Homo sapiens: one gene and its partners. The main gene of each other region encodes a partner of the protein of the gene in region 3 in a complex. Each region holds a gene or a part of one and is shown on either strand. Other genes may lie near its edges. The genes, in order: MAGEA3, CCT5 and DCAF12. A codon is read from its position in the direction of its gene.

What was found.
Region 1: the proteins of DCAF12 (region 3) and MAGEA3 are in contact, whole or in part, in a cryo-EM structure (PDB 8T9A), measured with the Homo sapiens proteins. Residues at the interface, in NP_056212.1 of Homo sapiens: Lys91 (codon at 1,420), Phe93 (codon at 1,414), Lys108 (codon at 1,369), Cys141, His144, Phe188, Arg203, Arg256, Val300, Arg344, Tyr410, Phe411, Tyr422, Leu440, Pro441, Ser442, Gly443; in NP_005353.1 of Homo sapiens: Arg310 (codon at 7,432), Glu311 (codon at 7,435), Gly312 (codon at 7,438), Glu313 (codon at 7,441), Glu314 (codon at 7,444).
Region 2: the proteins of DCAF12 (region 3) and CCT5 are in contact, whole or in part, in a cryo-EM structure (PDB 8AJM), measured with the Homo sapiens proteins. Residues at the interface, in NP_056212.1 of Homo sapiens: Lys91 (codon at 1,420), Phe93 (codon at 1,414), Lys108 (codon at 1,369), His144, Trp186, Phe188, Arg203, Lys254, Arg256, Glu298, Val300, Arg344, Phe411, Tyr422, Leu440, Pro441, Ser442, Gly443; in NP_036205.1 of Homo sapiens: Gly537, Glu538, Ser539, Glu540, Glu541.

The regions. Positions count from the first base shown.
Region 1 is NC_000023.11:152,694,329-152,701,800, forward strand, and holds the start of MAGEA3 (melanoma-associated antigen 3), read left to right. Parts: upstream 1-4,465; 5' UTR 4,466-4,501; exon of another isoform or gene 4,502-4,746; intron 4,747-4,877; exon of another isoform or gene 4,878-4,936; intron 4,937-4,977; exon of another isoform or gene 4,978-5,460; intron 5,461-6,229; exon of another isoform or gene 6,230-6,293; 5' UTR 6,294-6,359; intron 6,360-6,439; 5' UTR 6,440-6,504; coding exon 6,505-7,449; 3' UTR 7,450-7,472. UniProt on the Homo sapiens protein: Activator of ubiquitin ligase activity of RING-type zinc finger-containing E3 ubiquitin-protein ligases that acts as a repressor of autophagy. May enhance ubiquitin ligase activity of TRIM28 and stimulate p53/TP53 ubiquitination by TRIM28.
Region 2 is NC_000005.10:10,245,676-10,253,284, forward strand, and holds the start of CCT5 (T-complex protein 1 subunit epsilon), read left to right. Parts: upstream 1-4,604; 5' UTR 4,605-4,665; coding exon 4,666-4,770; intron 4,771-4,861; exon of another isoform or gene 4,862-5,218; intron 5,219-7,609. Other genes in the region: ATPSCKMT (ATP synthase subunit C lysine N-methyltransferase), read right to left, coding at 4,183-4,198. UniProt on the Homo sapiens protein: Component of the chaperonin-containing T-complex (TRiC), a molecular chaperone complex that assists the folding of actin, tubulin and other proteins upon ATP hydrolysis.
Region 3 is NC_000009.12:34,123,666-34,131,169, forward strand, and holds the start of DCAF12 (DDB1- and CUL4-associated factor 12), read right to left. Parts: upstream 3,034-7,504; 5' UTR 2,767-3,033; coding exon 2,689-2,766; intron 1,613-2,688; coding exon 1,358-1,612; intron 1-1,357. UniProt on the Homo sapiens protein: Substrate-recognition component of a DCX (DDB1-CUL4-X-box) E3 ubiquitin-protein ligase complex of the DesCEND (destruction via C-end degrons) pathway, which recognizes a C-degron located at the extreme C terminus of target proteins, leading to their ubiquitination and degradation.

The DNA of each region.
Region 1 (7,472 bases), on a different chromosome or scaffold from region 3:
CCTGAACAATTAGACATCTACAGGCAAATTATAATAACCTAGAAACATCCTTACATATTCCAGAAAAATTAACTCGATATAAATCACAGACCTAATGCAAAATGCAAAAACTATACAACCCTCTATAAGAAAACATAAGAGAAAATTCACATAACTTTGAGTTCAGTGGTGAGTTTTTAAATTCAACACCAAAAGCATGATCAATGAAAGAAAAATTTACCAAGTAGATTTTATTAAAATAAACATCATGTGCTCTTCAAAGGACAATGTTAAGAGAATGAAAACAGAAGCCACAGACTAGCAGAAAACATCGGTGGTACACATATGTGATAAAGAACATATCTCTACAACATACACGAATTCTTAAAGTTCAACGACAGAAAAAACATGAAAATAGGCAAAGATCTGAACACACTCCTCACAAAAGAAGATATACACATGGCAAATAAGCATAAAAAAGTACTGAGAATCCGTTCTCATTAGATAACTGTGTACTAAAATGAGATACCACTACACACCTATTAGAATGTCCAAAATCCATAAAAAAGCAAAAAAAAAAAAAAAAAGAAAAGAAAACCAAGATCAATTGCCAGGGAAGATGTGGAGCAACAGAAACTCTCATTCATTGCTGGTGGAAATGCAACATGGTACAGCCACTTTGGAAGACAATTTGGCGTTTTCTTAAAAAACTGAACACAGCATAAGATTCAGCAGTCATAATCAATTTACCCAATTGACGTGAAAACTTACGTCTACATAAAAATTTGTATACGATTGTATACAAAAGATTATTTCATAATCACCAAAAATAGAAGCATCCAAAATGTATTTCATTTGGTGGATGGATATATATATACACACGCACTATGGTACAACCAGACAATGATACTACTACTCCTCAATGAAAAGGAATAAGTTCTGAGCCACACAAAGTTATACATGACTCTTCAGTTCATTATGCTAGGTGAAAGAAACCAGTCTAAAAAGGCTACATAGTATGCGAGTCTATTTATATGACATTCAGGAAAAGGCAAAATTATAAAGATGAAACACCTATCAGTGGCAGCCAAGGGGGTTATCTGACAAGCACAGGGGATTTATCAGGGCAGTGAAACTAGTATGGTAATACTGTAATGGTGGATGCATGCTTGCTTTCATCTGAATATTTGTGTTCCCACAAACTTCATCTGCTGAAATACCAAGGTGATGGTATTAGGTAGAAGGTGGGGTATTTGGAGAATGACTAGTTCATGAGAGCAGAGTCCTCATGAATGGGATCAGTGTTTTTATAAAATAGACTCCACAGAGATCCCTTGCCCCTTCTTCCATGTGAGGACATAGGGGAAAGGCAACTGTCTATGAACTAGGGAGCAGGTCTCCATCAGACATGAAATCTGCCAGCACCTTGATCTTGGACTTCCCAACCTCTAGAATGTGAGAAATAAAGTTGTGTTGTTTATAAGCCACCCAGTCTACACTATTTTTGTTATGGAAGCCCAAAGGGACTAAGACAACGGCACGAGGCATTTGTCAAAACCCATAGATCTTTACAGCACAAAGAGTGAAGCTTAATGTATGTAAAGTCTAAAAGTAACTTAAGAAGTTGGAGAATCATGGGACAGAATGTAGAATGTTACACACACACACAAACCTAGCTGTATTATACATGTATGAAACCACTACAGTGAAGCAAGTGGCGGGAAAGTTACCATATTTGGGTACTCCATCAAAGAAATATGTTTTTTATAAAGTATAAGTCGGCCAGATAAGCATGTAAAATAGTTGAATATTTGATAATCATTTATATAATTTTTCAGATATGAAAACTATTGGGATTCTGTTTAATAAAACGTCCTTATCTTTTAAAAATGCATATTGAGTTATTTCGAGATGAAATGGTCTAATGCCTTAGATTCGCTCCACGTTATTCCAGAAGCTGATGTGCAGGTAGGCAAGTGTCTAACTGGAACCAGATTTGCTGTGTATTTAAAGTTGTTCATGCTGGGTATCTAGTATCCTGGGTTCATTACATTAGTTCCTATTATTCTGTATGTGTGAAGGCTTTCCCTAGTAAAACTTTTTTTATAATAAATATGCCATTAAAAGTGAAATCCTAAATGAAACTGACCACTTTGTAGAAATAAAATAAACCAGTAACCAAACTGATCCAAAAAGAAAAAGAAAACTTTAATTAAACTATAAAAACTGAAACTGTACAATGTTCAAAGCTCAAGCCACCTTCAAACATTCCAGGTTAGGCAGTATTGGAGGCCAATTCTACCAAATGATCAGGGAAAACTAACCACCATCTTATCTCATCTCTTCTAGAACATACAAAATATTTACAATTGTTCAATTCATTCTTCCAGACTAGCCCTCCTGGATTCAAAAACCAGATGAGGACCACATCCCACCCTTGATGGGAAAAAAAGCACACATTAAGTAAGCTCCCTTACATAGCAGCAAATATCCTACGTAAATTACTAGCATATTAAATAAACAGGCTCTGCCCAAGGAAATAACATACGGTTTAACATTAGGGGAAAAAAAAAAAACGGTTTCATTGTAATTCCTTACATACAAAATGGAGGAGAAAAAAATTTGATTGTGTCAACGGGTACAGAAAAAGCTTTTTAAAGAAATTTAATATGAGTTCATGGTAAAAAAAAAAAAAGTATTTAACCTATATTCAAAGAGAAATTGCACTTCCTAAAATCAACAGCAAACATACTTAAATGCAAAACGTTCGAATAATTATCATTCACGTCAGGAACGAGAAGTAGATGTAGGCTATTATCTCTACGATTGAAATCAGGATTGAGACACAAAGAGCTATAAGTACCAAAATGAGTAAGTGGTATGAATACTGGAAGAATATGTAATGTTTAGTGATAATACCATTATCGATCTTGAAAATTCAAAGGAAAAGGTATGTGGAATATTCAAGTGCATCGGCCTTCAGAACGAGGAGTGCAACAGATTACTACAGCAAAATCAAAATCTTCACCTCACGAAAGCAATAACTAACTACAACAATTAATAGACAATATGCCATTTGCAATAGCAACAAAATTCATGAATTGCCTGAAAAGAAGTCTAATAAAAATGTATAAGGTCTTTATAGAGACAACTGTCGAAGTATACTGACATATTCAGGTAAAAAAAAGCTTGAAATACATAGAGGAGTATAACATATTCATTCATGGGGAGCACAACACTGTAAAAATGTAAACTCAGCTTAAATTATTTACAATTTAGTGCCTTACCTGTAGCCGCCGCCATTACAACAAATTTGGGCTGCTGTGCTCTGCTTCCCAAATCAAACCTGGAAAATTACAGAATGGAAACAGTAAATAAAAAACCAGTATCAGCAACAAAATCTACGCAACAAAACAGGGAAAGCCCAGGGTGAGACTCAAGGCTGTGTTGAGCTGGTACTTGTGTTTGACACTTGCAGTGTTGGTTGGAGGGGGTTAGCAGCAGGGATGTTGGGGAGGTTTGTAGCCGGCCTACACGGTAGATGACAGAATGGGTAGAATAAAAGTTTGAAATTTTCCACTTCACTTCTTTGCACAATCTGAGGCAGCCTCTGAAAACACGATGCCAAGAGCCCTAGGTAATAGCAGGACACCAGGAAAATTTGGTTGGTTAAGGCAGTATGACTCCAGAGTTCTGCTAATAACAACCTGAAACCACCATAGTGGCAGAGGAATTACATTTTTAAAAAAAAAAAATTCTTTCAACAGAACACAAAGACTGAAATAGGAGGTCACTACAACCGCGGGAGCTGCCGCCCCGCCCTGCAGGGAGCACCTGGCCTGGGACCCGCAGGCATTCTCTACAAGGGGTGCAGCTGTGCAAATGCTCACAGGTGACAGAAACAGAGCATCTCCTGCCCATCACTTCATCCAACAGCCAGAGGTGACGAAGACGACCCTCCTGAGTGAGGACTGAGGGTCCACACCGCCCCCCCACCCCACACACCATAGAGGGACCACAGAATCCAGCTCAGCCCCTCTTGTCAGCCCTGGTAAACGCAGGCAGTGATGTCACCCAGACCACACCCCTTCCCCCAATGCCACTTCAGGGGGACTCAGAGTCAGAGACTTGGTCTGAGGGGAGCAGAAGCAATCTGCAGAGGATGGCGGTCCAGGCTCAGCCAGGCATCAACTTCAGGACCCTGAGGGATGACCGAAGGCCCCGCCCACCCACCCCCAACTCCCCCGACCCCACCAGGATCTACAGCCTCAGGACCCCCGTCCCAATCCTTACCCCTTGCCCCATCACCATCTTCATGCTTACCTCCACCCCCATCCGATCCCCATCCAGGCAGAATCCAGTTCCACCCCTGCCCGGAACCCAGGGTAGTACCGTTGCCAGGATGTGACGCCACTGACTTGCGCATTGGAGGTCAGAAGACCGCGAGATTCTCGCCCTGAGCAACGAGCGACGGCCTGACGTCGGCGGAGGGAAGCCGGCCCAGGCTCGGTGAGGAGGCAAGGTAAGACGCTGAGGGAGGACTGAGGCGGGCCTCACCTCAGACAGAGGGCCTCAAATAATCCAGTGCTGCCTCTGCTGCCGGGCCTGGGCCACCCCGCAGGGGAAGACTTCCAGGCTGGGTCGCCACTACCTCACCCCGCCGACCCCCGCCGCTTTAGCCACGGGGAACTCTGGGGACAGAGCTTAATGTGGCCAGGGCAGGGCTGGTTAGAAGAGGTCAGGGCCCACGCTGTGGCAGGAATCAAGGTCAGGACCCCGAGAGGGAACTGAGGGCAGCCTAACCACCACCCTCACCACCATTCCCGTCCCCCAACACCAACCCCACCCCCATCCCCCATTCCCCATTCCCATCCCCACCCCCACCCCTATCCTGGCAGAATCCGGGCTTTGCCCCTGGTATCAAGTCACGGAAGCTCCGGGAATGGCGGCCAGGCACGTGAGTCCTGAGGTTCACATCTACGGCTAAGGGAGGGAAGGGGTTCGGTATCGCGAGTATGGCCGTTGGGAGGCAGCGAAAGGGCCCAGGCCCTCCTGGAAGACAGTGGAGTCCTGAGGGGACCCAGCATGCCAGGACAGGGGGCCCACTGTACCCCTGTCTCAAACCGAGGCACCTTTTCATTCGGCTACGGGAATCCTAGGGATGCAGACCCACTTCAGCAGGGGGTTGGGGCCCAGCCCTGCGAGGAGTCATGGGGAGGAAGAAGAGGGAGGACTGAGGGGACCTTGGAGTCCAGATCAGTGGCAACCTTGGGCTGGGGGATGCTGGGCACAGTGGCCAAATGTGCTCTGTGCTCATTGCGCCTTCAGGGTGACCAGAGAGTTGAGGGCTGTGGTCTGAAGAGTGGGACTTCAGGTCAGCAGAGGGAGGAATCCCAGGATCTGCAGGGCCCAAGGTGTACCCCCAAGGGGCCCCTATGTGGTGGACAGATGCAGTGGTCCTAGGATCTGCCAAGCATCCAGGTGAAGAGACTGAGGGAGGATTGAGGGTACCCCTGGGACAGAATGCGGACTGGGGGCCCCATAAAAATCTGCCCTGCTCCTGCTGTTACCTCAGAGAGCCTGGGCAGGGCTGTCAGCTGAGGTCCCTCCATTATCCTAGGATCACTGATGTCAGGGAAGGGGAAGCCTTGGTCTGAGGGGGCTGCACTCAGGGCAGTAGAGGGAGGCTCTCAGACCCTACTAGGAGTGGAGGTGAGGACCAAGCAGTCTCCTCACCCAGGGTACATGGACTTCAATAAATTTGGACATCTCTCGTTGTCCTTTCCGGGAGGACCTGGGAATGTATGGCCAGATGTGGGTCCCCTCATGTTTTTCTGTACCATATCAGGTATGTGAGTTCTTGACATGAGAGATTCTCAGGCCAGCAGAAGGGAGGGATTAGGCCCTATAAGGAGAAAGGTGAGGGCCCTGAGTGAGCACAGAGGGGATCCTCCACCCCAGTAGAGTGGGGACCTCACAGAGTCTGGCCAACCCTCCTGACAGTTCTGGGAATCCGTGGCTGCGTTTGCTGTCTGCACATTGGGGGCCCGTGGATTCCTCTCCCAGGAATCAGGAGCTCCAGGAACAAGGCAGTGAGGACTTGGTCTGAGGCAGTGTCCTCAGGTCACAGAGTAGAGGGGGCTCAGATAGTGCCAACGGTGAAGGTTTGCCTTGGATTCAAACCAAGGGCCCCACCTGCCCCAGAACACATGGACTCCAGAGCGCCTGGCCTCACCCTCAATACTTTCAGTCCTGCAGCCTCAGCATGCGCTGGCCGGATGTACCCTGAGGTGCCCTCTCACTTCCTCCTTCAGGTTCTGAGGGGACAGGCTGACCTGGAGGACCAGAGGCCCCCGGAGGAGCACTGAAGGAGAAGATCTGTAAGTAAGCCTTTGTTAGAGCCTCCAAGGTTCCATTCAGTACTCAGCTGAGGTCTCTCACATGCTCCCTCTCTCCCCAGGCCAGTGGGTCTCCATTGCCCAGCTCCTGCCCACACTCCCGCCTGTTGCCCTGACCAGAGTCATCATGCCTCTTGAGCAGAGGAGTCAGCACTGCAAGCCTGAAGAAGGCCTTGAGGCCCGAGGAGAGGCCCTGGGCCTGGTGGGTGCGCAGGCTCCTGCTACTGAGGAGCAGGAGGCTGCCTCCTCCTCTTCTACTCTAGTTGAAGTCACCCTGGGGGAGGTGCCTGCTGCCGAGTCACCAGATCCTCCCCAGAGTCCTCAGGGAGCCTCCAGCCTCCCCACTACCATGAACTACCCTCTCTGGAGCCAATCCTATGAGGACTCCAGCAACCAAGAAGAGGAGGGGCCAAGCACCTTCCCTGACCTGGAGTCCGAGTTCCAAGCAGCACTCAGTAGGAAGGTGGCCGAGTTGGTTCATTTTCTGCTCCTCAAGTATCGAGCCAGGGAGCCGGTCACAAAGGCAGAAATGCTGGGGAGTGTCGTCGGAAATTGGCAGTATTTCTTTCCTGTGATCTTCAGCAAAGCTTCCAGTTCCTTGCAGCTGGTCTTTGGCATCGAGCTGATGGAAGTGGACCCCATCGGCCACTTGTACATCTTTGCCACCTGCCTGGGCCTCTCCTACGATGGCCTGCTGGGTGACAATCAGATCATGCCCAAGGCAGGCCTCCTGATAATCGTCCTGGCCATAATCGCAAGAGAGGGCGACTGTGCCCCTGAGGAGAAAATCTGGGAGGAGCTGAGTGTGTTAGAGGTGTTTGAGGGGAGGGAAGACAGTATCTTGGGGGATCCCAAGAAGCTGCTCACCCAACATTTCGTGCAGGAAAACTACCTGGAGTACCGGCAGGTCCCCGGCAGTGATCCTGCATGTTATGAATTCCTGTGGGGTCCAAGGGCCCTCGTTGAAACCAGCTATGTGAAAGTCCTGCACCATATGGTAAAGATCAGTGGAGGACCTCACATTTCCTACCCACCCCTGCATGAGTGGGTTTTGAGAGAGGGGGAAGAGTGAGTCTGAGCACGAGTTGCAGCCAG
Region 2 (7,609 bases), on a different chromosome or scaffold from region 3:
AGTGGAGGTTGCAGTGAGCCGAGATCACACCACTGTACTCCAACCTGGGTGACAGAGTGAGACCTCATTACAAAAAAAAAAAAAAAGATTTTGCAATAATACTATCCTCATAGGATTCTTGGAACAGGTAAATAATGTAAACAAAGCATTTAGCACAAGCCTGAGAGGCTAAGTAATGACTATTAATTGCTATTATTATTCTCAATACTATCATATGCAAGGAGGGGCTCAATTTTTAACAGCTTTGAGATATAATTCATATACATACAATTTGCCTGCTTAAAGTATATAATTTAATGTTTCTTTTTATATTCAGATACATGCAACCATCACTACAGTCAATTTTTGAACATTTTTATTACCTCAAGAGGAAACCCCTTATCCTTTAGCTATCACCCCCGCATCCACCCTCTATCCCCCAGCCCTAAGCAACCACTAATCTACTTTTTGTCTCAAGAATCCCCTATTCTGGGGCCTGGCACAGTGGCTCACGCCTGCAATCCCAGCACTTTGGGAGGCCGAGGTGGGCGGATCACTTGAGGTCAGGAGTTCCAGACCAGCCTGGCCAATATTGTGAAACAACAACTCTACTAAAATACCAAAAAAAAATTAGCCAGGCATGGTGGTGCACACCTGTAATCCCAGCTACTTGGGAGGCTGGGGGCAAGAGAATCACCTGAACCGGGGAGGCAGAGGTTACAGTGAGCCAAGGAGCCAAAATTGCACCACTGCACTCCAGCCTGGGAGACAGAACAAGACCCTGTCTCTCAAAAAAAAGAAAGAAAAAAAAAAAAAAAGAATCCCCTATTCTGGACTTAAAGGAATGGAATTGTATAGTGTGTGGACTTCTGTAACTGACATTTTTTACTTAGCATGTCTTCAAGATTCATCCAGGTTGCAACTTGTATCAGTTCTTTATTTCTTTTTATGGCTTAATAATATTCCATTGTATGGATATGCCATATTTTTGCTTACGCATTTGTTCACCAAGTTTATTAAACAAACACAAGTCAGATGACCCAAATTTCATTTTTCACCTGTGTAGATATGTACCTTTCAATTCAACCAGCAAAAGATGTAATAAAAAGTTCCTGTTCTTCACGGCCTCCCATCTAGGCAGATGAGGGGTGGGGTCCAGGAGAGGCAGACACAGGGCTGGTTGTGAGAAATGCTATAACACAAACAAAACGCTACAGGCATATGGGAGAGGCGGAGGAAAGACTGATTCCAACAATGGGACCAGTGAGGTGTTGGCAGAGAGAATATTTGAGCTGGAGCCAAAAGCAGCAAGCCTTGGAACCAAGGTGTGGAAGGCAGGGAAAGCCTTTCTGGAGCACAGAGTGAGAGACAAACAGGAAGGCAGGCCTCTGAAGGCCAGGCTGAATGTGTATTTTATTCTATGTGCACTGTGATGAAACTTTTTGAGCAAAGTCACCATAATATTTGTGTTTTTAAGAAAGGCAACACAGGGGCAATGAGTCTCTTGATGAAATCATTCTATTTTCTGTCCCAGGTTTTGATGCCTGCAAGTCTTGCAACGTAACAAACATTTGCATGGGGAAATCAAGATCCATACCCATTGCTGGAGCTTTGGAAGAAGTTACTATGTACATCCAATATAGGATGTACAATATAGGAACTACATTGTTAGCTCCATTCAGGAAAAACAATTGATTCCTTTTTGCGATGGGGTCTCACTCTGTCGTCCAGGCTGGAGTGCAGTAGCACAATCACAGCTCACCACAGCCTTGACCTCTCAGGCTCAAACGATCCTCCCACTTCAGCCTCCCAGGTAGCTGGGACTACAGGCACATGCCACCACACCCAGCTAATTTTTTAAATTTTTTTCTTTAGAGACAGGGTCTCCCTATGTTGCCCAGGCTGGTCTCAAACTCCTGGGCTCAAGCAATTCTCTCGCCTCAGCCTCCTAAAGTGCCTCCATGCCAGGACCTGTATTGATTCTTATCAGTAAAAATCAGGCCCTGAATATTCAAAACTAAAATCAAGACTGTTTCTACAAATCCTTCTAACGGAACATGTTCAGACTCCCAGACTATCCTATATATAAATGGCAAGAACTTTCTTTCAGGTGTTCTTTGGAACAAGGAGCCATTCTATTAAATAATGGCTGCAGTGGCCACTGGCTACTTTCATTGAGCACTTAGTAGTCCATCCTTTAAAGTCAAACACAGAATGAGGTTAACTTCTACTGTGTCCGGGCCCTGCTTGCTTATTGACTTCTAATATTGGTTGAAAACTTCAATTTTTAGTGGCAGATTTGGATCAGCTGAAGCTAGAGGCAGTGACAGATGTACAATAAGGTACCCAAGGTTCTTATCCAAGTTCAAGCCAAAAGAAAAAGGCCAAGAAGAGAGAAGGAGCCTGTTAGGAATAGTAACTAGCCACGTGTTTAAAGCGGGCTTATATCAGAATGTCACAACTCATAAGGACTGTTCATTGTGCACTTGTATGTGCATACCTGTTTAATAACTACAGCATATGTTATGTCCCTTTAGCATATATTCTTATGTCCTTAAGAAGCCTTTCTTATACTAGTCTAATGTCATTTGTGTCCTTTTGACATACATGAGCTATTGATATTAGGAAAAATCCTCTCTCACTCCCCAGTGTTTTGACAGGGAATCAACTACACAGAGGATGCCATAGGACATTCTATTTTTCACAACAATCGAAGGAGCCAAATGAATTGCAGAAGTCACCATTTTTAATGAGGAAACACTGAATTGGCAAAGCTAACGTGAAATAAGACCTGACTCCAAAATCTAAAATGTCCTTGAAGAACACTTCAAGGTCTAGCGCGTAAGTATGCCAAGCATGAAGAGTTAACAGATCACCAACCATCCCATGACAGTCAGTCCTCCCTGTTTTTAGAGACAGAATCTCGCTCTGTCGCCCAGGATGGAGTGCAGTGGCGCGATTATAGCGCACTGTAAACTGAACTCCTGGGCTCCACCCATCCTCCTGCCTCAGCCCCAGAGTAGATGGGAACACAGTCGCCAAGTCTGTTCTTGAGTTTCAGGACAGGGTCAAATGTTATAGTGCATGTATTCATTTCAGCACTTATTGAGTGCCTAATAAAGTCTGGGAATAATACAACTTTATTAGTTAAGTCCCTGCCCATGGCAGTAGGGGAGAAGCAAGGATGGAAACCCTCAACAAATAAATCTAAACCTATCAAATATTAAGTCATGATCTTGGAGGGCGGGGAGGAAGGCAGCATAAGAGATTTAGAGGACAGCTGCGGTTGCCAAGATCTTTCTGAGGCAGCATAATACAGGGCTTAAGAGTGAGACCTGCCGGGCACCGCGGTGGCTCAGGCCCAACACTTGGGGAGACCTAGACGGGTACATCACTTGAGGTCAGCCGTTCGAGACCAGCCTGGCCACTACGGCGTTAACACCGTCTCTACTAAAAATACAAAAATTAGCGAGCGTGGTGGTTCTGTGCCTGTAGTCCCAGCTGCCTGGGAGGCTGAGGCACGAGAATCACTGGAACCCGGGAGGCGGAGGCTGCAGTGAGCCGAGACCGCGCCACTGCACTCCAGCCCGGGCTACAGTCTTGTCTCAAAAAAAAAAAAAAAAAAAAAGAGTGTGGGACCCATTGCATCAGGCTGTGTAACTGTTTCTTACTAGCTGTATACCAGTGGCAAGTTACTGAACCATTTGTGCAAAATGTTAATTTATTTACCAACACTGTGTTCAGCTTGCCAGGCACCGTTCTCCTTGAATCTCACAGCAGCCCTGTGAGTAGGCACTACTGTTACCACCGTCACTTTGCAGACAGGGAACCCGAGGGACAAAGAAGTTAAGGGATTTCCTCAAAGCCACAGCTAGGAAGAGCGGCAGAACTGCGATTCCAATCCATCAGTGTGCCTCCACTATCCCTATTCCTTAAGATCGTGCCAAAGGCTGAGTCACTTGCACTAAGTAGCCTAGAACAGTCTCTGGGGAAACGCGCCCGCCGACAAGGATCGCCAGAACCGGCGCGGGCACCGCGCGGCGACCAGGAGCTCTGGTCACCGAAGGCCAGGCTGGAGGCCAGAGCAGCCGCCCGCACCCGGTCACCGCCTCGACAGTGGAGACCTCAGCTGACCGCGAGCCCCCGGCCCGCCCGCACCCCTTCTCATGCCCCCAGGAACCCGCCAAGCCGCTCCAGCCTCACCTCCTCCTCCCTCCATCGCGAGATTTCCAACAGCGTTTTTAAAAAAAAAAAAAAAAAAAAAAAAAAAAAAAAAAAAACCGGAAATGGGTCCTACCATCTTCTCGGAGCCGGAGTGCGAAGAAATAAAGAAATAGTGCTTTAAGTCAATGAATTCCTCCTTGGGACCCACTATCGAGAAACTATCAGTGGTAACGTTTTAAAAAATGACAAATTCAATCTGCTCTTGACTTGTGTGTCCTAAGATTTCCACTAAGTGTCTTCAAACCTCCCCCTCCCCGGCTTCCTGGATAATAGAAGTTCCCGAAGGCCGCCGATTCCAGAAGATACTGTCTGGCGTGAAATTAGTCTCAGTAGAAACATAAGTCCCGCGCGTCTTGTGCTGCGCGTGCGCAAGCTTTTGGGCCCTCCCGAGAAAGGGAAGTGCATTCTCGCTTCCGTAGCGGTCTCCGCCGGTTGGGGGGAAGTAATTCCGGTTGTTGCACCATGGCGTCCATGGGGACCCTCGCCTTCGATGAATATGGGCGCCCTTTCCTCATCATCAAGGATCAGGACCGCAAGTCCCGTCTTATGGGACTTGAGGCCCTCAAGGTAATGGCACAGGGACCTGCTCGCGGTGGGCTAAGGGGAGGTGGCCGAGGCCGTGGCTCTGCGCCTGCGCGAGTTGAGGAGCGGCTCTGCCATGTGCTCCCCGGAAAGGTCGAGAATCTCCGTCTCCCTGCGGTCTCCGGCCGCTCAGCCCGCTTACTGAGCTCGGGAGACGCCGGCGCCTAATCCTGGGCTCGGAATGTGGGGGCCAGCCAGGCTGGGCCGCCAGCGCCCTTCGGAGCTGGGTGGGGCCGCTCAGTCCGGTCGCCCGCGGGAGCAAAGCGGGACCGCCTCCCCGCCCGGCTCCTCCAGCCTGACGGCCGCGTGGGACTGCGCTCCAGTGGGAGGGCGCCGGGGAGATGCTCTGTCACCTGTCGGTTAAGGCGCTGCTGCTTAACCTTTCGCTGGTCCACCCGCAACGGCCCTTCCGTTTTCTTTGTCACTCGTAAAGGTGTGGTCACTTAACAGGGTATTTCATTTCTGAGTGCTTTTTTGCCCACCCTTGAGGAAAAATAGCGAAGAGTGAAAAACGGACGCACATAACCGTAATACAAGGTGGTGTGCAGTGAGAAGGACAGCTACGGAGAGGGTGCACATAAGCGTGGTGCTGGAGGACAGCTTTAGATCGGGGTGAGAGGTAGCATTCTAGGGAGAGGAAACGGTAGAAGTAAAGGCTTGGGCAAGAATGCGCATGGCACGTTGTAGAATGGAAGAGCCATCCGGTTTTAATGGAGCACTGACTTCTTTAACTTACAATAGTTCCCGAAGGTGGAAGCTATTGAATGCCCAACATGGAAAATACGACGTTATCTTTGGGGAAGAAGGGGAGCCATTGAGGGGGTTTTGAGCAGAATTTCAGTAGAGCTGCACTTCAGGCAGCAAAGCTTGAGATAGACCGAAGGGAATAAGGAAGACCAGAGGGGTTAAAGAAACCAGGGCAGGGGTGCAGGTAAGAAACATCTGAGCACCAGACGTTGACAGAAAATGCAGAGGAAGGGACACTCCGAGAGGGCCTTCAGGGTTTGTTATAAAGTGAATTCATAATAGACCATTCCACTAGGTCTCTCAGGTGTCCCTGTTCACTTAGTGTCTTGGAGGTTTACTTACGCAAAGTTAGAAACAATACAGTTCCCCTATGGACTCTTTGTTTGACTTAGTGCTAGTTACACAACCTCGCGGAACCTCCTTTTCCAGGGGGAGGTGATAGGCCTCCGTCAAGCTGAAGACTTGACAGTGATATTAAATGGAGTGACTTAGAGGGGCTGCACAGTGGTTGATCCACGGTAGGCACTCAGTATTTGTTTCCTTTCTAGAAAGAAAAAGTTTCAAGCTAATTGTATTATGTATTCCATTTTATTTTCCACTTAACAGGGACCTGCAGAGAAAATAACATCCAATACACACACCTGGTGTAACAACATAACTAAAACTAGGTTGTTTTGCATCAGCCATTTTGTTCAAACTGCATGCATTTGTGCCCAGAAGTCGCACACTCTGAGACAGGGTTATTTTACAAAACTGGGGACTTGGGCCCAGAGCAGTTGAGAAATTGTTCTGAAGAGCAGTTGCTACTAAAGAGCATTACCATGGTCAGGGCCACCGCTGTCAGAGTCAAAGCCAGTGGTCTAGAGCAGCATTCTCAAGTTTGGCATATTGACATTCGAGGTCGGATCATTCTTTGCTGTGGGAGCTCATTTGGACAGTAACCTGGGTGTTTAAGTCTCTTAAAAGAGTTGGATGCTGTTGGTAGGCATCCTGTGAGTGTTGAGGCTCAGCAGTTTAGGGATATACACTTGCTCCCTGACCTCATAGAACGTCCAGCTAACTTGAAGAACCAAAATATATGGAAATTGAAGGCAACGGTAAAAGAAATGTATAGGCCAGGACGTGAACGTTTTAATGGTAATGGTCACAGTTCTTTCTCTCTGGTCATTTAGAGCCTTAAAGGTAATATGTATTTTGTTGAGATTCTTCACTTGTTTAACACTTAACTGTATAATATTTCACCTTAAAAATGCAGGCATTGACTGGGCGCGGTGGCTCACGCCTGTAATCCCAGAACTTTGGGAGGCTGAGGCAGGAGAATCGCTGGAACCTGGGAGGCAGAGGTTGCGGTGAGCCGAGATCACGCCACTGCACTCCAGCCTGGGTGACAGAGTGAGACTCCGTCTCAAAAAAAAAAAAAAAAAGGTGCAGGCATTAGTTGGCTTAGGAAGGAATCATATTCTAAAATCCTGTAACCTAAAACAGAGCAGGCTAAGTTTCCAGGCCAGCCAGCATAATTCTGTTTTATCCATAATATGTATTATGCCTTGATGTTTGATACTCTTCCCTCTGGAAACACACAGAACTAGCAGAAGGAAGAAAAAGGTTTTTTCCACGTTGCCGAGCAGTAGGGCAAAATAGATCTCGGGATTTCGGGATCTCTCCTATTTGCCAAATTCTTTACATCCTTTTCTTTCTGCCTCTTGCTTTCTCCTTAAAAATAATAATAATAATAATTCTATTACTCAATTTGGTAGCTAAATGTGAAAAAAAAAACAGGTAACTTTTTTATTATCACTTTGACAGCTACTTACCTTCCTTAAGAGGGCCAGTTTCAGCCGGGCGTGGTTGCTCAAACCTGTAATCCTGGCACTTTGGGCAGCCAAGGCAGGTGGATCACCTGAGGTCAGGAGTTAAAGACCAGCCTGGCCAACATGGCAAAACCCTATCTCTACTGAAAATACAAAAAAAAATGAGCAGGGCGTCATGGCGCGTGCCTGTAATCCCAGCTACTGGGGGGCTGAGGCAGGAGGATCGCTTAAACCCGGGAGGCGGAGGTTGCAGTGAGCTGAGATCA
Region 3 (7,504 bases):
AAATAGTGTCAATAAATTCAACAAGCAAGAGGCTATGATGATTAATTCAGTTTACAATTCAGTAATATTTGCTAGGCTAAACACTATGATGCACGTGCGGGGAGTGGAATGAACTCTTCCAAGCAGGAGACTCTTTTTCTACTCCAAGTGACAAGGATGACAGTTCTTAACCACGAGTGGGCAGCTGGAGAGACCAAGAAAAGGAAGTTCTGTGGAGGCCCGTTGCCACCACTTAGTTTTGAAAGGCTTCTGGGTAAGACAAGCGACTCCTCAACAGAAGAGGAAACGAAAGGTTGGCCCCAACCACCATGGTATTATTTCCTTCCTCAAAACTGTTTAAATTTTTGCCTATGTCCTTTATAAACAGACCAACCACCATGGTATTATTTCCTTCCTTAAAACTGTTTAAATTTTTGCCTATGTCCTTTATAAACAGACACTTCTCCTAGTACTTAAGACTTTCTTGATCTAGAGCAATCTTCTCTCTTTTAATGATCCAAAATGTGTTTCATTCCAGGGTCAATTTACTCACACATTATGACATTACTTGTCCATTCACACAGGGGAGGTGAAAACCGAGGGAGGGCTGGGCGTAATCATTTCCCACCCCTAGGCCCTAGGCCCTGCCTCTTTTCATTTGCCAGTCTTGTGACATCATGCTATTCGTGGACTCTATTCCAAACGTTTCTGCTCTTTGACTTATTTTATCCTGGCCTATAATTGGGTTGGTTACAAAGCTTACTGAGAAATTTTTCACTTCATTCATTTATAACTGTCTTTCTATTCACTCTTAAAAAGGCTACTTTCCAAAGAGCTAATGCTTATACCCTGAAATATACTACCAGACACACATTCCCTGCCTTCCTTATAGGAAACAGTTCATGTATTTCTCATATTTCAGTTTATACATTTTTAGATTCTGTTCACTAAAAAACAGCCAAGTGTGCTATTTTAAATACTTCGACATACGTTCTTAGGCTGTTTTCACTATTATGTATCCTGAATGATGCTCTAAGCATCATTATTTCTTAAATCTTTCCTTTGAGGCCTATGACTTAAAAACCAGCATAAAAATATGAGGCAAAAACAAACAAACAAACAAACAACCCTCTAGAAGCAGCACATCCAGAGAGGGCCTGAAGAAATACACTCCTTTGAGGACTTATCAGAAAAGAAATGTATGAGTGAAAAAAGGAACACGAAAAGAGGAAGAAGTCACCAACGGGAAAGAATGGAAAGGAGAGTAAGGCAAGTCCCTCCTAAAAGAAACAGACGGGAAAACTAGCAGAGGTTCTAGAGCAAGTGGAGCAATATATCCACGACCTAGGAGAGAGGTCACATCCCCCCAGGCACTTACCGTGTTGCATTTTGTGCCACACACCACTTGCCTATGATTCAACCACTGAGATGCAAACACTTTATTAAGGGTCCCAAGGTGAAACTCTCTCTCCTTCAGGAGACTGGGAAGTTGCTGTGCTGCATAACCATGCAACACTCGAGAGTAGCTGGTTTCATTCTGTAGCCTGACTTCCCGGTTCTTCAAGTAGTATACTAAGGATCTCTTCACAGGAGGAAGTCTTTTCCTTTTGTGAAGCGAGTGATCCCAGCCAAACTGTGGAAACAACATTAGAAATCAGGGCTTTGGCTACTCTTCTTCAGAACAGATCCTACTGTATTACAGAAATCACCAACTCATAACTCATACTGCAGAATTTACAAACAACACAAATACAAACACAAGAGAACAAGAATCTCAATCCAGAAAGTCGTTTAACTCTTCCAACATTAAAAAGATGTTGCTCACAGTCAAACTTACCAATGTGAATTACAAGGGCTGAAAGTCAAGGGAATGAATGCAGAATAGAACAGACTAAAAGGTTTACTAGACATTTTAGGAGTGAAAGATTGAAGGAAATGAGAGGTAGAGTGATTCCCATACCGACATGGGCTGCATCTCTACCCAGCCCCCTTCTCCCTCTCAGTCTGTACTCCCACTGGAGCACGGAAGATACAGTCCAAGGAGCCAGACCTGGCTCCCAGGTCTTCCAGGGATGCATCATCAATGACCGTTCCTCTGTCATCATGCCCGCGCTCCAGGCAGTTGCAGAATTCGAAAAATCAACCGCCAACGGGGTAGTAGGCCCCCGGGAAATCAGAGGCCATATCTATGTCCAAGAAGGCCTTCCCCTCCAAAGGGGGCGGCATAGAGATGATACCTGGGAACTGTTGTTTCTTTTGGGGTCCAAACGCCGAAAGGCCCAGCTCAGGGTTGGGTATACATATAGGGAGACTACTTCCTTCTTCCAGGAGGGACGCAATCATCCCAGCTTCCTAGGGCCCATGGAAGGTAGAGTTCACTCTACCAGAGTTTGTTTCCGATTCCCTTAACTTCGGTTTCCCCTTCCTCCAAAGCCAAGATTCTGGTTTCTTTTCAAGCCCTATCCACGAATGCAGGCCTCCCGCGGATTATGTCCCATTCCTGAGTTCCCCTTTGGCTCCTCACCGCCCTGGCCTATCTGCCCTCCAGTTAACGAGGGTCCAGTCCTGACCCTATAGGCCCTGAACCCATTCCTGTTTTGCCTCTGACTGCAGACCCTGGACCCCGATTCCCGTCGCAGGATCTGCGGACCCTAAGCCCATCTTGGTTCCTCAGCCTCACCACCCAGGTGCCGGCCTCTCAACCCTCACCTGCGGGCCCTGAGCGTCGCTCCCAGCTCCCGGCGAGGCGGGCGCTTTCCGCTTCCTGCTAACTACTTTCCGGGCCATAGTGGGCAGCGCCGCCGCGGCCCCGCAGCCACATGGGGCGGGGGAAGCGAAGGATAGCAGGACGGCGGGTCATATACTGGGCCCCGGGGCCGCGCACCTTAGTGCGCCCGGCCCGGAAAATGGCCCGGACCCGGAGCGGCAGCAGAAAAAAGATAGGCGGAAAGAAAGGAAAGAGAGAGGAAGGACTTGAGCCGGGAAAGGGAAGGGGAAGCGAGAATGAGCGGCTTTCCGACGGCAGAGCCTGCAAGGACGGCGAGCGGCTAGAACCAAAACACCCCCTCCCCCTTGCTCGCGCGCCGTCACCCTTGCGCAGCCGCACTTCGGATAGCGTCGCCACGGAAACACCGCCGGAACGAGATGGGCGGGATCTAGGGGTTGGAAGATAGTTCTCTGGTGTTTCCCGGCCGCCGCCAGGCCATTTTCAACGGTTGTTTGGCTACTGCTGGATGGAAGTGGACGAGCTGGGGCCAAGGGAATCTGGCTTCTGGCCGCCGACCTCCGACCCCAGCCCGCCTATCCGCAGGCACCCGGAAGTGAGGACCACCAGTGCTGCTGGGGGAAGGAATCCTCCCTAGTGCAGGCCTTAACCCGGTTACCTCCCATCTGGCACCAAACGTTTCCCTGAATCTGTCACAAACCGTGCCCTGGCTCCAAGGGCTGGACAGGGGGGTGGGGGGGTGGGGGGCAGGAACCGCTCCCACCCTCGAGGTGAAGTCCAGTCAGGAAGTCAGGGCAGTGTGGCCAGACTTTCCCACCACTGAGAACCTGCCCAGCACAACCAACCCAGGCCGCCCTACGAGTCTCTGGCTACCCTCTTCCCACCGCTGGGTAGCCCTGAGGCTCCATTCTCCGCTCTGTCTCCTCCTGATCCTTTCTCCTGTCCGAAATGCTTCAGCCCCTCAGTCAGTTTCAGCTCCTCAGTCACCTTCCCCTTACGGTGCAACTTCACCATTCCCTTTAGATTTCCATGACCTGCCATCTAAACCACATGGTCTTTTGTGCTTTATGAAGTAGTCATCACGCTGTAAACTTATCTGTAGCTGCCTGCCTCACTCTTGGATTCAGGTTGCGTCTCCATTAGGGCAGGTCGGGAATTCTGAACTACAGGAAAGAGAGTGGTCATTTTTGGCTTGCCAGTCCAGTTAGAGCTGGCATTGGCCTCCAAACAAGGGGGCTTCATCAGGATCACCCTTGCCAACATTTTTGGAAGATCCTGAAGGAATATGACTGCCAGCCTTCGCTTTCCTCAAGCAAACAAACCCTCTGAGGAAGCAGGATGCTCTTGCTTGGGGCTGATTGGCCTCAGGCTGTGGTGCCCAGTTACCTGCTGGTCACTTCAGGCTTCAGGCCTCAGGCCTCATACCTCCAAGGAGCTCTGTTGGACCATCTCAAGTTCTGTCAACAAGGAGATTTGGATTTGTTTTCCAAGCCGAATCAAAGACCAGATTGAAGCAGGGTCTCCTGCCATCCCAAGTCGGCACTACCACTAACCCCTAATGTCTTGCGAAAGGCAGCTCCATCTTATTTGGTCAGGCCTGTCCCTTTAGAGATATGCACATAGTGAGTGGGTCAGGAGTGGGTCAGCTTTCTTTTTTGAGTCTGTTCTAATTCTGTCTTGCCCCGCAATGCTCTGGATGACCCAAGAGCCCCTGGGCAAGAGTCTGGAATCCTTTGAGAATCTCTAGGCTCAGATTGGGCTGTCAGTGCCAAGAGGGGCACACTGGGCACTGCTGCAGTCTCTTTCTCAAAGTTCCTTTACTTCATCTTCACAACCTAGGAACCATCCCCAAATGTACCTTATAGCAGAGCTCGCGATTTCTTTTCTTTTTTTTTTTTTGAGATGGAGTCTCACTCTGTAGCCTAGGCTGGAGTGCAGTGGCACGATCTCGGCTCACTGCAACCTCTGCCTCCTGGGTTCAAGTGATTCTCCTACCTCAGCCTCCTGAGTAGCTCAGATTACAGGTGCTCGCCACGTTGCCCAGCTAATTTTTTTTTTTCTTTTTTGAGACGGAGTCTCGCTCTGTCGCCCAGGATGGAGTGCAGTGGTGCGATCTCGGCTCACTGCAGGCTCCGCCTCCTGGGTTCACGCCATTCTCCTGGCTCAGCTTCCCGAATAGCTGAGACTACAGGCGCCCGCCACCACGCCTGGCTAATTTTTTGTATTTTTAGTAGAGACGGGGTTTCACCATGTTAGCCAGGATGGTTGCCCACTAATTTTTGTATTTTTAGTAGAGACGGGGTTTCACCATGTTAGCCAGGATGGTTGCCCACTAATTTTTGTATTTTCAGTAGAGATGGGGTTTCGCCATGTTGGCCAGGCTGGTCTCAAAATCCTGACCTCAGGTGATCCGCCCACTTCGGCCTCCCAAAGTGCTAGGATTACAGGCATGAGCCACCACGGCTGGCCAAGAGCTCACCATTTCTATTCAAATAACAGAATGAAAGTCCATTTTGGAAATTTAATTGACAATTGCCTTTAAAAGACTGCAGGCCAGGTGCGGTGGCTCACGCCTGTAATCCCAGCACACTGGGAGGCCGAGTTGGGCCAATCACCTGAGGTCAGGAGTTCGAGACCAGCCTCCTGAGTAGCTGGGTTGCAGTGAGCTGAGATCATGCCACTGGACTCCAGCCAGGGTGACAGAGCAAGACCCTGTGTAAAAAATAAAATAATAAAATAATAATGATAACAATAATAAAGTAGTAGAGTGGCTGGGGGAAAAAGTACTCAGGGCATGTAACTACTCCAAGAATGGCATTCTTAGTGAGCCTCACTGCTGAAACTGCGTGCTATAATCTGAAAGCAGTTTTATCTAATAGCTGTTAAAACAACCTACTGTGACTCTCAGAAATAGTTTTACTTATTGCCTTCACTTACCAATCAAAACTTGCCAGCTCTCCAAAACCTTACTAGTGCCAGTGAACTTTCTTGAAGAGCAATACATAACACTTCCTTTTTACAAAACTTCCAACCTTCTCTTTGTTCTGCAGACATGGCAAAGACCACCCAGTCTGCGTGTGCCCTGAATTACAATTCCTGCTTCACAAAACATTTTAATTTTAGAGATTCATCTATATATTTTATTTCACCTTGACAAAACTGTGTGAATGAATTTTATAATATTGCATAAAAGATATCAGGCCAGGCGTGGTGGCTTACACCTGTAATCCCATCACTTTGGGATGCCAAGGCGGGTGGATCACCTTAGGTCAGGAGTTTGAGACCAGCCTGGCCAACATGGTGAAACCCCCTCTCTACTAAAAATACACAAATTAGCTGGGCATGGTGGTGCCCGCCAGTAGTCCCAGCTACTCAGGAGGCTGAGGCAGGAGAATCGCTTGAACCCAGGAGACCAAGGCTTCAGTAAGCCGAGATCGAGCCACTGCACTCCAGCCTGGGCAACAGAATGAGTTTCCGTTTCAAAAAAAGAAAAGAAAAGAAAAAAAAATCAAACACACTGCTGGGCACGGGGCTCACCCCTGTAATCCTAGCACTTTGGGAGGCTGAGGCAGGTAGATTGCTTGAACTCAGGAGTTTGAGACCAGCATGGGCAACATGGGAAAATCCTGTCTCTATAGAAACATACAAAAATTAGCTGGGTGGGGTGGCATGTACCTGTAGTCCCAGCTACTTGGGAGTTGGCAGGCTGAGGTGGGAGGATAGCTTGAGCCCAGAAGGTGGAGGTTGCAGGTGGAGAGCCAATATCATGCCACTGCACTCCAGCCTGGGAGATCCAGACCTGTCTCCAAAAAAGTCAAACACAAAGCAGTAATTCCTTTTTTTATTTTTATTTTTTGAGGGACAAGTTCTCGCTTTGTTGCCCAGGCTGGAGTGCAGTGGCATGGCATGCATGTGCCACCACACCCAGCTTATTTTTTATCTTTTGTAGAGACAGGGTCTCGCCTGGTTGCCCAGGCTGGTCTTAAACTCCTGGGCTTAAGCGATCCTCCCACCTTGGCCTCCCAAAGTGCTGGTATTACAGGTATGAGACACTGAGGCCAACCAAAGCAGTAATTCCTAAATGTAATTAGTAAATGCCTAATTTCATGTTTTTGAAGTATGAAAACAGGCACAACTGATCCATGGTAAGAGAAATCAGTCATTACCCTTAAGCGGGATTACTAACTGGCAGGGGACCTCAGGGAGCCTTCTGAGGTTCTGGAAATTTCTTTTTTTTCTTTTTGAGACAGAGTCTCATTCTCCCACCCAGGCTGGGGTGCAGTGGCACGATCTCAGCTCACTGCAACCTCTGCCTTCCGGGTTCAAGCAATTCTCCTGCCTCAGCCTCCCAAGTAGCTGGGACTACAGGCCTGCGCCACCACACCTGGCTAATTTTTGTATTTTTGGTAGAGATAGGGTTTCACCGTGTTGGCCAGGCTGGTCTCAAACTCCTGACCTCAGGTCATCCACCCACCTCGGCTTCCCAAAGTGCTGGGGTTACAGGCATCAGCCACCATGCCTAGCCTGGAAATTTCTTTCATTTTTCTTTTCTTTTCTTTTTTTTTTTTTTTTTTTTTTGTGAGACAGTCTCGCTTCATTGCCCAGGCTGGGTGCAATGGTGCAATCTCAGCTCACTGCAACCTCTGCCTCCTGAGTTCAAGCGATTCTCCTGCCTGAGCCTCCTGAGTAGCTGGGATTACAGGTGCCCACCACCTCGCCTGGCTAATGTTTTTGTATTTTTAGTAGAGATGGGGTTTCTCCATGTTGGTCAGGATGGTCTCGAACTCCCGACCTCAGGTG